Homo sapiens: one gene and its partners. The protein of the gene in region 3 purifies or fractionates together with the protein of the main gene of each other region. This does not show direct contact. Each region holds a gene or a part of one and is shown on either strand. Other genes may lie near its edges. The genes, in order: MACO1, CUEDC1 and PLAC9.

What was found.
Region 1: the proteins of PLAC9 (region 3) and MACO1 purify together in Homo sapiens (affinity purification with mass spectrometry; one large-scale study listed by BioGRID and IntAct). This does not show direct contact.
Region 2: the proteins of PLAC9 (region 3) and CUEDC1 purify together in Homo sapiens (affinity purification with mass spectrometry; one large-scale study listed by BioGRID and IntAct). This does not show direct contact.

The regions. Positions count from the first base shown.
Region 1 is NC_000001.11:25,433,874-25,437,525, forward strand, and holds part of MACO1 (macoilin), read left to right. Parts: intron 1-3,652. UniProt on the Homo sapiens protein: Plays a role in the regulation of neuronal activity.
Region 2 is NC_000017.11:57,882,261-57,885,912, forward strand, and holds part of CUEDC1 (CUE domain-containing protein 1), read right to left. Parts: intron 3,620-3,652; 5' UTR 3,305-3,619; coding exon 2,969-3,304; exon of another isoform or gene 2,912-2,968; intron 1-2,911.
Region 3 is NC_000010.11:80,135,628-80,139,279, reverse strand, and holds part of PLAC9 (placenta-specific protein 9 isoform 1 precursor), read right to left. Parts: intron 1-3,652.

The DNA of each region.
Region 1 (3,652 bases), on a different chromosome or scaffold from region 3:
TGTGGTTAATTTTTTAAGGAGGCAGGAAATACTGTAAGATTTGGTGCAACTGTAAACAAAAGTTGAGTAGCCAAAACAAAGGGTCAGTTGCTGTTTGGTCTTGCTTTAAAAAATCCTGTTGTGGACTCACTTTTAAATCATGGGCTGCAGTCCAACAACTGTTACTGAGGTGACTGTCAAATGATATCATTTATTGTGAGTATCATGGCTGTCTTGGAATTCTGTTTCGGGGTGAGATGCAAGGAAAATTAATTTTAGACATTATGTTAATGTAATCTGCATTTATACATATAAAACATCATTTGAAAAGTGAAACATGCTATAGAAATATTTTAGTCCAGTTAATAATTAAAAATAGGAGAAAGGAAATAGGAATAGTGATCTTTTCATCTTACTAGGGGCTAAAGTTCGATGTAGTTTTAAAAAAATCTGACCCAGCCCAGAGCCTGACAGAGTCGACATTCAGTGTTCAATAAATGTTGAGTGAGTAAATTAATAAATGAATATAAGCTAGTCCATTTCATTCATGAAGTGCCTACGTTGTTCAGGGAATTGCGGAGGATACAGGATAACACATGGCTCATTGTCTTCAAGGAGTTTACAGTCTAGTAGGCCGTAGTAATACCATCTTAAATTTGTACAGTGGTTTAGAGTTTCCAAAGAACTTTAAGTTCTGTTCAAGTAAAAATATTTCTGTTGTGCTAAATTTTAGCTTACTGTTTTAGTGGTTCATCTGACACATTAACAGCTGTATTTTGCTCTGTGCTATTTTATGATAAAGTAGACAGTTGCCACTATATGAGGGAGTCTTTTCTATCTCAAATGAGATAGATATGAAAGTACTTTAAAAATTATGAACATAAGTTATTAAGTACCTAACTCTTATATTTCTAAGGTCCTTTGGTTTTCTGGGCTGGGTTCTCTCCTTGTGTCTGCCTAGACACATGTGCACCAGACACTCCCGATAGTAATATCTCATTGCAGGCAGTGATTTTCCAGGTGAGGTGAGGTTAGGGTACTATGTAGTTTTTAAAAGCCTTAAGGGGATTCTGTATGGTTTACCCCTACCTCTCACCCTGCCATACTTTCCACTCCCTTCCCTCAGAGAATTACTGACTTTATAATATAAAAATGAGGAGATAAGATGTGGTAAGTAGAAGAAGGAGGCAGAAACATTTATGTTTAAAGTATACATATATTCCAAATCGCTACAGTTAAATGGTTATTTATGCAAGTAAATATAATACGAATTTTAAGTAAGGTATATGTTTTAAGCTTCTGGGAATGATTTTATATCTGTGTTACTGGTGGCTGAAGGAAGTACCCTTTCACTGTGTATTTAAGACTGCTTCCTGTCTTCATGTACTGGATTCTGCTTGTAGTGCTGTGTGAAGCTTAGGCAGTGCAGTATTGTACCTGACTGTCATATTTTTGCAGCTTAATGCCTTAAAACTAGGACTAAGAACTCAGCACTGGTGTATATGTTATTATTTCCCATTTTTATTTCAGAGAAAAATTCTCTGGTCCTTGGGGCTCCTCAAAAGTGACTTTTTAAAGTGATTAAATTTTGCATTCTTCTCAACTTCCCAATTTCCTTTTTCAGACCCTTGTCTACATCTGATCTCCAGAGGTTTCATTTGACTGCTTTTTCTGCCTCCTTAATGATGTTTTCTAAGCCTAGTTTTAGACTCCTTTGGGCTATGCTTATTAAAGTCACTGCAGGCTGTCATGACCCTTGGCTGCCTTGATTGTACATGTGTTCTGCAACTGAAACCCCAGATACCTGTGTTGCAATCTCATAGCCTAAAAGCATTTTGGTAATCTTGGTAGGCTTTAACTTTAACAATCCTGGACCTGGCACGAAAGTGATAGATTCTGTATTGTTTTAGAGGAGTGTTGGGGAAGGAGAAATTGAAATGTTTTCACTAACCTGTGCAGTGAAGTGTTTATTAGCTAAACTCTTCTATTTGTGGTTTTCACAAAATACACTTTAAAAATCGGCCACACTGGGATGAAAAAGCACTTTCCTCCAACTTTCATTATGATTCTTCCTGTCTGAGCAGTCTTGGCAGTTTAGTTTCATTAGGTGTTTTGAAAATCCCTTTAAATTGCTGCTGGGTTGAGGAGGGGAACAGGAGAGAACGTGATTCACTTCACATTATTTGCTTAAAAGCTTCCTGTTTTATCATTGATAGTCTCCTTTTTCTTCACATCGATTCCTCATGGCCTCTCTTGAACCTCACTAGATTTAGAGATTGATCTTAATGGTAGGTTTAACAAATAATTATTTACATTTTCTTACTAGTTATATGCTTGTATATATCTCATGGACCCAGTCCATGTTCTGTAAGCATTTATGTTCCTAGAATCTTTTTCTTTGGCCATTTCTCCCAGATCTCCCCACTGATACTGTTAACCCTTTGGGGTTTTATGTATATAAAGTGCACTTTGTTTTATCTGTTTCTAGGCTACCATCTTGTGGAGTTTGGAGGGCAAGTAGAAATTTCACAAACATAGTTAAGTGAAATACTGTAATTAGGTTACTTTTCTTCATAAAATTTAGTGTGCTCTTCAGATATACTGATTAGTTTATCCCCAGGCTTACTAGATTTGGGCATAATTATTTTACTTGGCTCTTGCTCAAGAATTAAGTCCAGAAGAAAAAGAAGTTGGCTGTCCAGCAAGCTGCATAAGTAGGATGGTACATACAACAGTAGATACACATATCCTTGTTAGACTTTTTCCACTGTGGATTTCTTCAGATGCTTAAGTAGTGACTTTTCAAAGCCTCTCACCTTGCATCCTGGCAATGGAAGCTTGAAAAAAGTTAATCAACTTTTAGAGAATATTGAGGCTCTGTATCTTTAATTTGACATTTAACCGACATCAAATTGTCTCAGCTGATGAGCCTTCCAAGGCACTTGTCTTCCCTGGCCTTTGAAGACAGTCATAGTACTGACCTTGATTGCTTTATATTTTTTTCTCTGCTGCCTTTAAGGATGATATGCCCACTTTGAGTCATGGGATTGTGGCACCAAAAATAATGTATCCCTCACCCCATCTCCTCTGTTGCCTTCTCTTTTTCAGAGCTTTTGCATTTAGTGATTAAAATGGTGTGACTACTCCACTTTCATATATCTGTTCATATCACTGATGAGTTTGAGCTGTTTAGGACCGATCTCCCACTCAGCACAGAGGAGTGGCTAGAAATAATCTCATTCTGTTTTTGAATCATATTGTTACGTTGTTCATCTTCAAAACACTTTTTTTTTTTTTTTTGAGACAGGGTCTCATTCTGTCGCCCAGGCTGGAGTCCAGCAGCGAGATCACAGCTCACTGTATCCTTCATCTCCTGGGTTCAAGAGATCCTTACACTTCAGCTGACCGAGTAGCTGGGACCAAAGGCATATACTACCATGCCTGGCTTTTTTTTTTTTTTTTTTTTTTTGCGTTTTTGCGTTTTTATAAAGATGGAGTCTCGCCGTGTTGTATAGGCTGGTCTTGAACTCCTGGGCTCAAGTGAGCCACTCACCTTGACCTCTCAAAGTACTGGGATTATAGGCATGAGCCACCGCACCCACCCAACACTTTTAAAAACCAAATAAATAGCTGAGTACTAAAATCAGTACTTTGCCTATCTTGTAGCAAGAAT
Region 2 (3,652 bases), on a different chromosome or scaffold from region 3:
CAGGAGCTGCCTGCCTATGGGCCCAGGCAGAGTTCCAAAGGTGGGGGGTTGGGGAGACTGCCAAGGGAGGGGAGGGGTACCGGGAGGGGGCTCAATTTGGAGAGCAAGATTCTTAGAAAAACAGAAGTGCACACACAGCAAGGGCCTACCTAGGGGGTGGTGAAGCCTTGCAGAGGTCTATAGGACTGTGGGGGCCATGGACAAAGGAGAAAATACTACCCTACCTGCCAGACTGTCAGGGCAAATCAGACTGCAGAAAGGGTCAGAGCTTGCAGAGAGCTTTCCTTCCAGTTCACACTTAAAGCATATACAGTTGACTCTCAAATAACAAGAGTTTGAACTGCGTGGGTCCACTTATAGGTAGATTTTCTTCCACCTCCACCACCCCTGAGACAGCAAAACCAACCCCTCCTGTCCCTCCTCCTCAGCCTACTCAATGTGAGAAGATGAGGATGAAGCCCTTTACGATGATCTACTTCCACTTAATGAGTAGAAAATATATTTTGTCTTGCTTATGATTTTCTTAACATTTTCTTGTCTCTAGCTTACTTTATTGTAGGAATACAGTATATGATACATACAACACACAAAATATATGTTAGTCGACTGTTTATGTTAAGGCTTGAGTTAAGGCTTGAGGTCAACGATAGGCTATTAGCAGTCAATTTCTGGGAAAATCAAAAGTTATATTAAAAAGTGGATTTTTGACTGCAAGGGGAGGATTCACTGCCCCTAACCCCTGCATTGTTCAATGGTCAACTGTATCTGCAGACACACACATACATACGCATACTCTCACTCTCTCTCTCTCCTTCTTTCTACAAAGAGGATCCATATTTTCCAATATTCCTTCCACCACCTACTCCAAGCAGATCAAAGGAGTGGTCTCCCAAGGAGAGAGACAATAGAAAACTGTACAAAGACAGCAGCAACACGTACTCATTCAACAAACACTCCCTGAGTGCTTGCTATGTGCGTGGATTGTCCTGGGTGCTGCAGATGACACAGGGATGAGCCAGATGTCTTGGCCAACAGAGCTTTTCCACCTCTAGGGGAAGTCTCAGCAGCACCCACTAAGGAGGAAAAGCAAGGAGACTTTGCCCTGCAGGATGGCTGATGAACAAGGGTAATAATAATGCCACAGCACAAAGTTTGTGAGGATTAGAAGAGATGACACATCGGGCCAGGTGCAGTGGCTCATGCCTGTAATCCCAATACTTTGGGAGGCCGAGGCGGGCAGATCACCTGAGGTCAGGAGTTCGAGACCAGCCTGGCCAACATGGTGAAACCCCATCTCTACTAAAACTACAAAATTAGCCGGTCATGATGGCACATGCATGTAGTCCCAGCTACTCGAGAGGCTGAGGCAGGAGAATCGCTTGAACCTGGGAGGTGGAGGTTGCAGTGAACCAAGATCGCGCCATTGCACTCCAGCCTGGGCGACAGAGCAAGACTCTGTCTCAAAAAAACAAAAAAACAAACAAAAAAAGAAGATATGATACATCTAAAGCACTTAGGATGATGCCTGGCACGGGTCGGGACTCAATAAAGAGTGGAGTTAAATCCTGCTGGGTCCTGGTCTTGTCCATGGCTGCATGTCCCAGATGGCCCTGTGGACAACACCCCTCTGATTAACAGGCTCTGTGTGCCTCATCCTTCTGCACCAAGCACCTCAGGCTCTGCTGATACTGGGTGGCCAGATGTCCACTGAACTCGGGTGGGACTGGAAAGGACTCACAACCTCCAGCAGGTGGGTACTGATGCAGTACGCAGGTCCCCTCTCTCCAGCCACTTCCCTGGAGAGACTGCTTGGCTATGGCTCACTACTGTTTCCATCAGGCCACAGTCAGAGGGATTTAACTGGCAAGTCTGATTCCTCACTCCCTTTCCGTGGCTATGCTCCCAGGATACAGCCGCACTCTTTTTCTTTTCTTTTTTTTTTTTTTTTTTTTTTTGAGACGGAGCCTTGTTCTGTCACCCAGGCTGGAGTGCAGTGGCATGATCTCGGCTCACTGCAACCTCTGCCTCCCGGGTTCAGGCGATTCTCCTGCCTCAGCCTCCCGAGTAGCTGGGACTACAGGTGCGCACCACCACGCCTGGCTAATTTTTGTATTTTTAGTAGAGATGGGGTTTCACCATATTGGCCAGGCTGGTCTCGAACTCCTGAACTCATGATCCACCTGCCTCGGCCTCCCAAAGTGCTGGGATTACAGGCATGAGCCACCTCGCCCGGCCCCAGCCGCACTCTTTTTCTCAGCGTCAGGGCTTTGTCAACCTCATTGATCTCCTCTCACTCTAGGACCCTGACAGATGGTCCTGCTGCCAGTTCCCTAGCCAGTGAGGCACTATTTCACCTCCCAGACTCTGCACAAGCTGTTCCCTTTGCCTGCACACCCTTCCCCCGGCTTCACTCTTCCTTTGGGTCTCAGCTTAGGGTTTCGGCTTAGCCATCGCTTCCTCTGGGAAGTCACTCCTTTCTGCTGCTTCCACGTCTCCATCGAGCACTTACCACTCTGGCCGTCAGTACCCGACTCGCGCTTCTAGTCCACACTGGACTGTGAGCTCCAGGAGGGCAGAAATTTGGTCTGACTTGGCCACTAGCGGACTCTACGCCTGATGTGGAGTTCAGTATGTTGGGGTGGGGCCCAGGCACCTGCATTTTTAACAAGCACCTTGATTCTGATGCCTCCTGACTCAGGGTCTAGTGCCACGTCTCGCACACCACTGAGTGGGCGCTCAGTGTTTGTTGAATGACTGCATGATTTCTGCCCATAAAATAAGGTGACTGACGGATGGTACTTTTCCCTAGGGGAAGTAAGGCTGCTTGCTAATTAGAACCCAGATAGCGGAGTAACCCAGGTCCTCTTAGAGGTTCCAGTGGTGGTTGGAATTACCCGGGCCGTGCCCCTACCTCCGGGGGGATGCTGTCCTCCAGTGGTGGTTGGAATTACCCGGGCTGCGCCCCTACCTCCGGGGGGATGCTGTCCTCCGAGTCGGAGCTGTCCTCATAGACGCCGCCGCTGCTGCCACCGCCCTCCAGGTTCATCTGCAGCAGCTGGTCGATGGTGGCGTCCACAGCGCCGCTGTTGGCGCGCAGCACGCATTCGATGATGTCGTAATCCATGTTGGGGAACATGGTCTTGAAGTCGTCCATGGCCTGGTTGAACTCCAGGCGGCGCACCTGGCGGGCAGGCCGGCTGTTGTTGAGCTCCTGGGGGGCGGCCGTGCCTCCCCCGCCCCCGCGTGCCCCGGCGGTGCCACCCCCGCCGCTGCCGCTGCTGCTCCGGCGGAACAGGCTGGTCATTTTGCGGAGCCGCTTGGGGAAAATGTTTCTAGCCGGCCGCAAAGCCCCTTCCCCAGGGTCTTTCCGCCGTCAGCCGCTTACTTGCCCTGCGGTCTCGGGCAGCTCACTCCTGCGCCTCCTCCTCCCCGGGTAGCCAGGCAGCAATGGGCTGCCAAGAGCTCCGGGTTAGGAGAGTACGGGCGCGGGGCCCCAGGCAGCCCTTGGAGAGCGGTCCTCGCGGGGCGGTGGCATGCGGGACCGGGCCGTGCTGGGGCTGGGCGGCCGGTCATCCACACCCCCGGTGCATCCTGGCACCGGTTTCACGGATGGTCCCACCTGAAACCGAAAGAGATGGAGTCAGGGCCGAGG
Region 3 (3,652 bases):
AACAAGAGGTAAAGAATGTTGCAATTTTAGCCAGGCGCGGTGGCTCACGCCTGTAATCCCAGCACTTTGGGAGGCCGAGGCGGGCAGATCATGAGGTCAGGAGATCGAGACCATCCTGGCTAACACGGTGAAACCCCGTCTCTACTAAAAATACAAAAAAATTAGCCGGGCGTGGCGGTGGGCACCTGTAGTCCCAGCTACTAGGGAGGCTGAGGCAGGAGAATGGCGTGAACCCGGGAGGCAGAGCTTGCAGTGAGTGGAGATCGCGCCACTGCACTCCAGCCTGGGTGACAGAGCTAGACTCCGTCTCAAAAAAAAAAAAAAAAAAGGAATATTGCAATTTAACTTTTAGAGGTCGAGCAGCTTCAGAGAGTGACAATATTAAGGCTGTGGCCATGGATGCGGGCATCCAAAGCTCAATAGGGGGAGTTATGGAACTTGATCTCTCTACGTGCAATGCTTGTAGCTGTAAGGCCTTGGTATTGGATGGGTTGGCCAAGGGGCCATCTGCAGTTGTCTAGAAGTGGGGCAGGTCTTGAGGTAGGACAGAGCTGATGATGGATGTGTAACTCTGAGAGGCTGAGTGATTTCCCCAAGGTCACACCATCTGCAAATGCCTGGACCTCAGGCACCCTGACCTCCTGTTCTCATCTCAGCAAGGTGGGGACCCCCTGCCCTGTGATTTTCTGATTCCAACTCTATCTAGCTCTCAGCACTTCCACTCAGAGATGAGAACAGGACCAGAGACAAAATGTCCTTCCACTCTGAGCATCTTTTGTGGAGAACAATCTGTTTTCCAAATTATCCTTTTCATTATTTCCCTCCACTGAACTTAGAAAATACTCTTCAAAAGATAATGGTGTTATTGCTGAATCTGGGGAGGGAGGAGGACATTATAATGGCCCTTTGGTTATTTTTTTAATGCAAGTATTTTAAAGACCTATACTGAAATATTTACAGATGAAAGGCTGTGCTGTCTTGGATTTACTTCCAAAGTAAATAATCCAGGCCTCAGTGGGGATGGTGGAGAGGCATGCGTGGATGTTTAGAGCAAACAGGATGGGCTGAGAGTTGCTGATTGTTGAAGCTGGGTGATGAGCAAATGGGGGTGCATTCAGCGATTCTGTCTACTGTTGTGTGCACGATTTGAAATGTTCCATAACAAAAGCTGGCTGTCTGACGAGGTTGTCAGCAGAAAGCAGCAGCCATTGTGGGCTGCAGGCATTCATGTAAAATATTCAGAGAGAGAGAGGCCCCTGGGGGCTATGCTCCATCCTGGCCCCACATCCTGAGAAGGCCCTTGAGAGGCAGGAGCAGGTCTAGAGGAGGCTATGGGAAGGGACTCCTCTTTTTTTTTTTTTTTTTTAGACAGGGTCTCACTCTGTCACCCAGGCTGAAGTGCAGTGGCACAATCATGGCTCACTGCAACCTCTTCTTCCCGGGTTCAAGCAATTCTCCCACCTCAGCCTCCAGAGTAGCTGGGACTACAGGCACACACTACCATGCCTGGCTACGTTTTGTATTTTTTGTAGAGATAGGATTTCACTACGTTGCCCAGGCTAAGCTCAAACCCCTGGGCTTAAGTGATCCGCCTGTCTCGGCCTCCCAAAGTGCTGGGATTATAGGAGTGAACAACCGCACCCAGTCTGGGACTCCAAATTTTAACTCAATTCTCTCAGCTGAAACTGGGCTGCTCAGCTTGGAGAGGAAAAGCTCTGAGGGGGCCTCTGTTGTCACCCACAGAGTGGCCGTCCTAGGGGAGGGCCTGTTGTCATGAGTCTGTGGATACACATACCCCCCTGCTGGCTCTGTCCAGAGGCCTTTGGCCAAGCCTTTTCTCTGAGGCTCACCTGCCCTCTCCCAGACCCTAGCCACTCTCCCGTGTAAGGCTCAGGCCAGGGGGATGCAGTGTGACCCTGCCAGCCAAATGGGAGTCTGGCTGCTTTGGAAGTCAGAACAACCAGAGCCTGCTCCCCTCCACTGGCCTAAACCACCCTGTTCTCTACGTGTCTGTGATGAGGTCTAACTTGGCTCCAAAACCCCTCCAGGGAAAAGGCTGGGCTGAGGTCGCTCCCAACATGGCTCAGCACTAATCCTTCACATCTGGACAAAACTGTGCTTTGTGCACCCTGGAGCAACTGTCCGTGAGCTCATCGGGGCCTCCACAGAGTGCATCTGAGAGAGCAAGCTTGGAGCAGGGCCTGACATTGTACTGCCAGCATCCTCACCACAGCGCTGACTTGAACGCATCATGGTAGAAAACATGCTGGAGACCCCTTTTCTCAGCCTGGTTCAGCCACTAATGATTGTGGGATTGTGAGAAAGTTTCTTCTGCTCCCTGAGCCTCTGCTGCCTCTTACATAAAATGGGGTAGGGTAGGCCTGAGGCCCTGACTCCCCCGTGTAGCGCATCCTTAATTCTTCTGTCTTTTGGAGGCTGCAGAGAGGCCTCAAGAATTAGCTAGACGAGCTGGGCTCGGTGGTTCACACCTGTAATCCCAGAGCTTTAGGAGGCTGAGGCAAGAGGATCGCTTGAAGCCAGAAGTTTGAGGTCACTCTGGGCAACATAGTGAGACTCTGTCTCTACAAAAATAAATAAATAAATAAATAAATAAATAAATAAAATAAAAATTAAAAAAAAATTAGCCAGGATTGGTGGTATATACTTGTAGTCTCAGGTATTTGGAAAGCTGAGGCGGGAGAATCGCTTGAGCCCAGGAGTTTGAGACTACAGTCAGCTACGATTGCACCACTGCACTGCAGCCAGGGTGACAGTGAAAGACTGTGTCTTGTAAGAAAATAAATAAATGAATAAAAAATAGTAGACACGCACATGCACCACAGGGCTGTCAGTGGCTCAGACAAGGGGAGTGGAAAAGACTGAAGGATTATGATGATTAACCCTGAGCAGCCAAGGCTGTGGCTCCTCAGGGCTCCCTTCCTTCCTTTCCTCCCGCTCTCCCAGGCCCTGCCAGTTGGGAAATGGACCTCCTTGGATGCTGCGTTGTTTTCTCTGGCCCGGCTCCTGCTAGGGGCCTGATGTGCACCCTGGATGGTGGCCATGGGTGGGGCATCCTGTGCTGGTGAGAACACGCTGCTGTGGAGCCCGGAGGCCCCAGAGGAGGGCTCGGCTGGGCTGGCTGCCCCAGTTAAAGAGACGTGGCCCCTGGGTCCCATCCTCTGAGGCGGAAGTACGGGTGCTTCTACTTACAGGCCTTATGGGGAGACCTTTTGTATCTGGACCCAAACAGTAAGAAAGGGCCACAACACAGATGATTTCTGCATGCTGGGGGTTGAGAAATGTTTTCTCAGTGGCATCTGAAAGGTGCCGCTGTATCTTCTGAATTGTCAAAGTCACACTCTGCTTTGAAAAGCAACCCTGGCCACTTGGGGGTTAATTATATTTGACCACATTCAACATAATAGAATAATAAATTTACCACATCCAATATTTGTATTAAAATGTATGATTCACTCAAAACCATCCACGGGTTTTGATCATTTTTGAAAGCAGCAGAAAACTATTCTTCAAGTGATTTTATAAAAAACTCCAAAATATGGGCCGGGCGTGGTGGCTCATGGTCTAAAAAGCCATCAGGGATAAAGGTTTCTCTGAGTGCTGCTAAAAGAAACCAAGACTTGGGCCCAGCGCG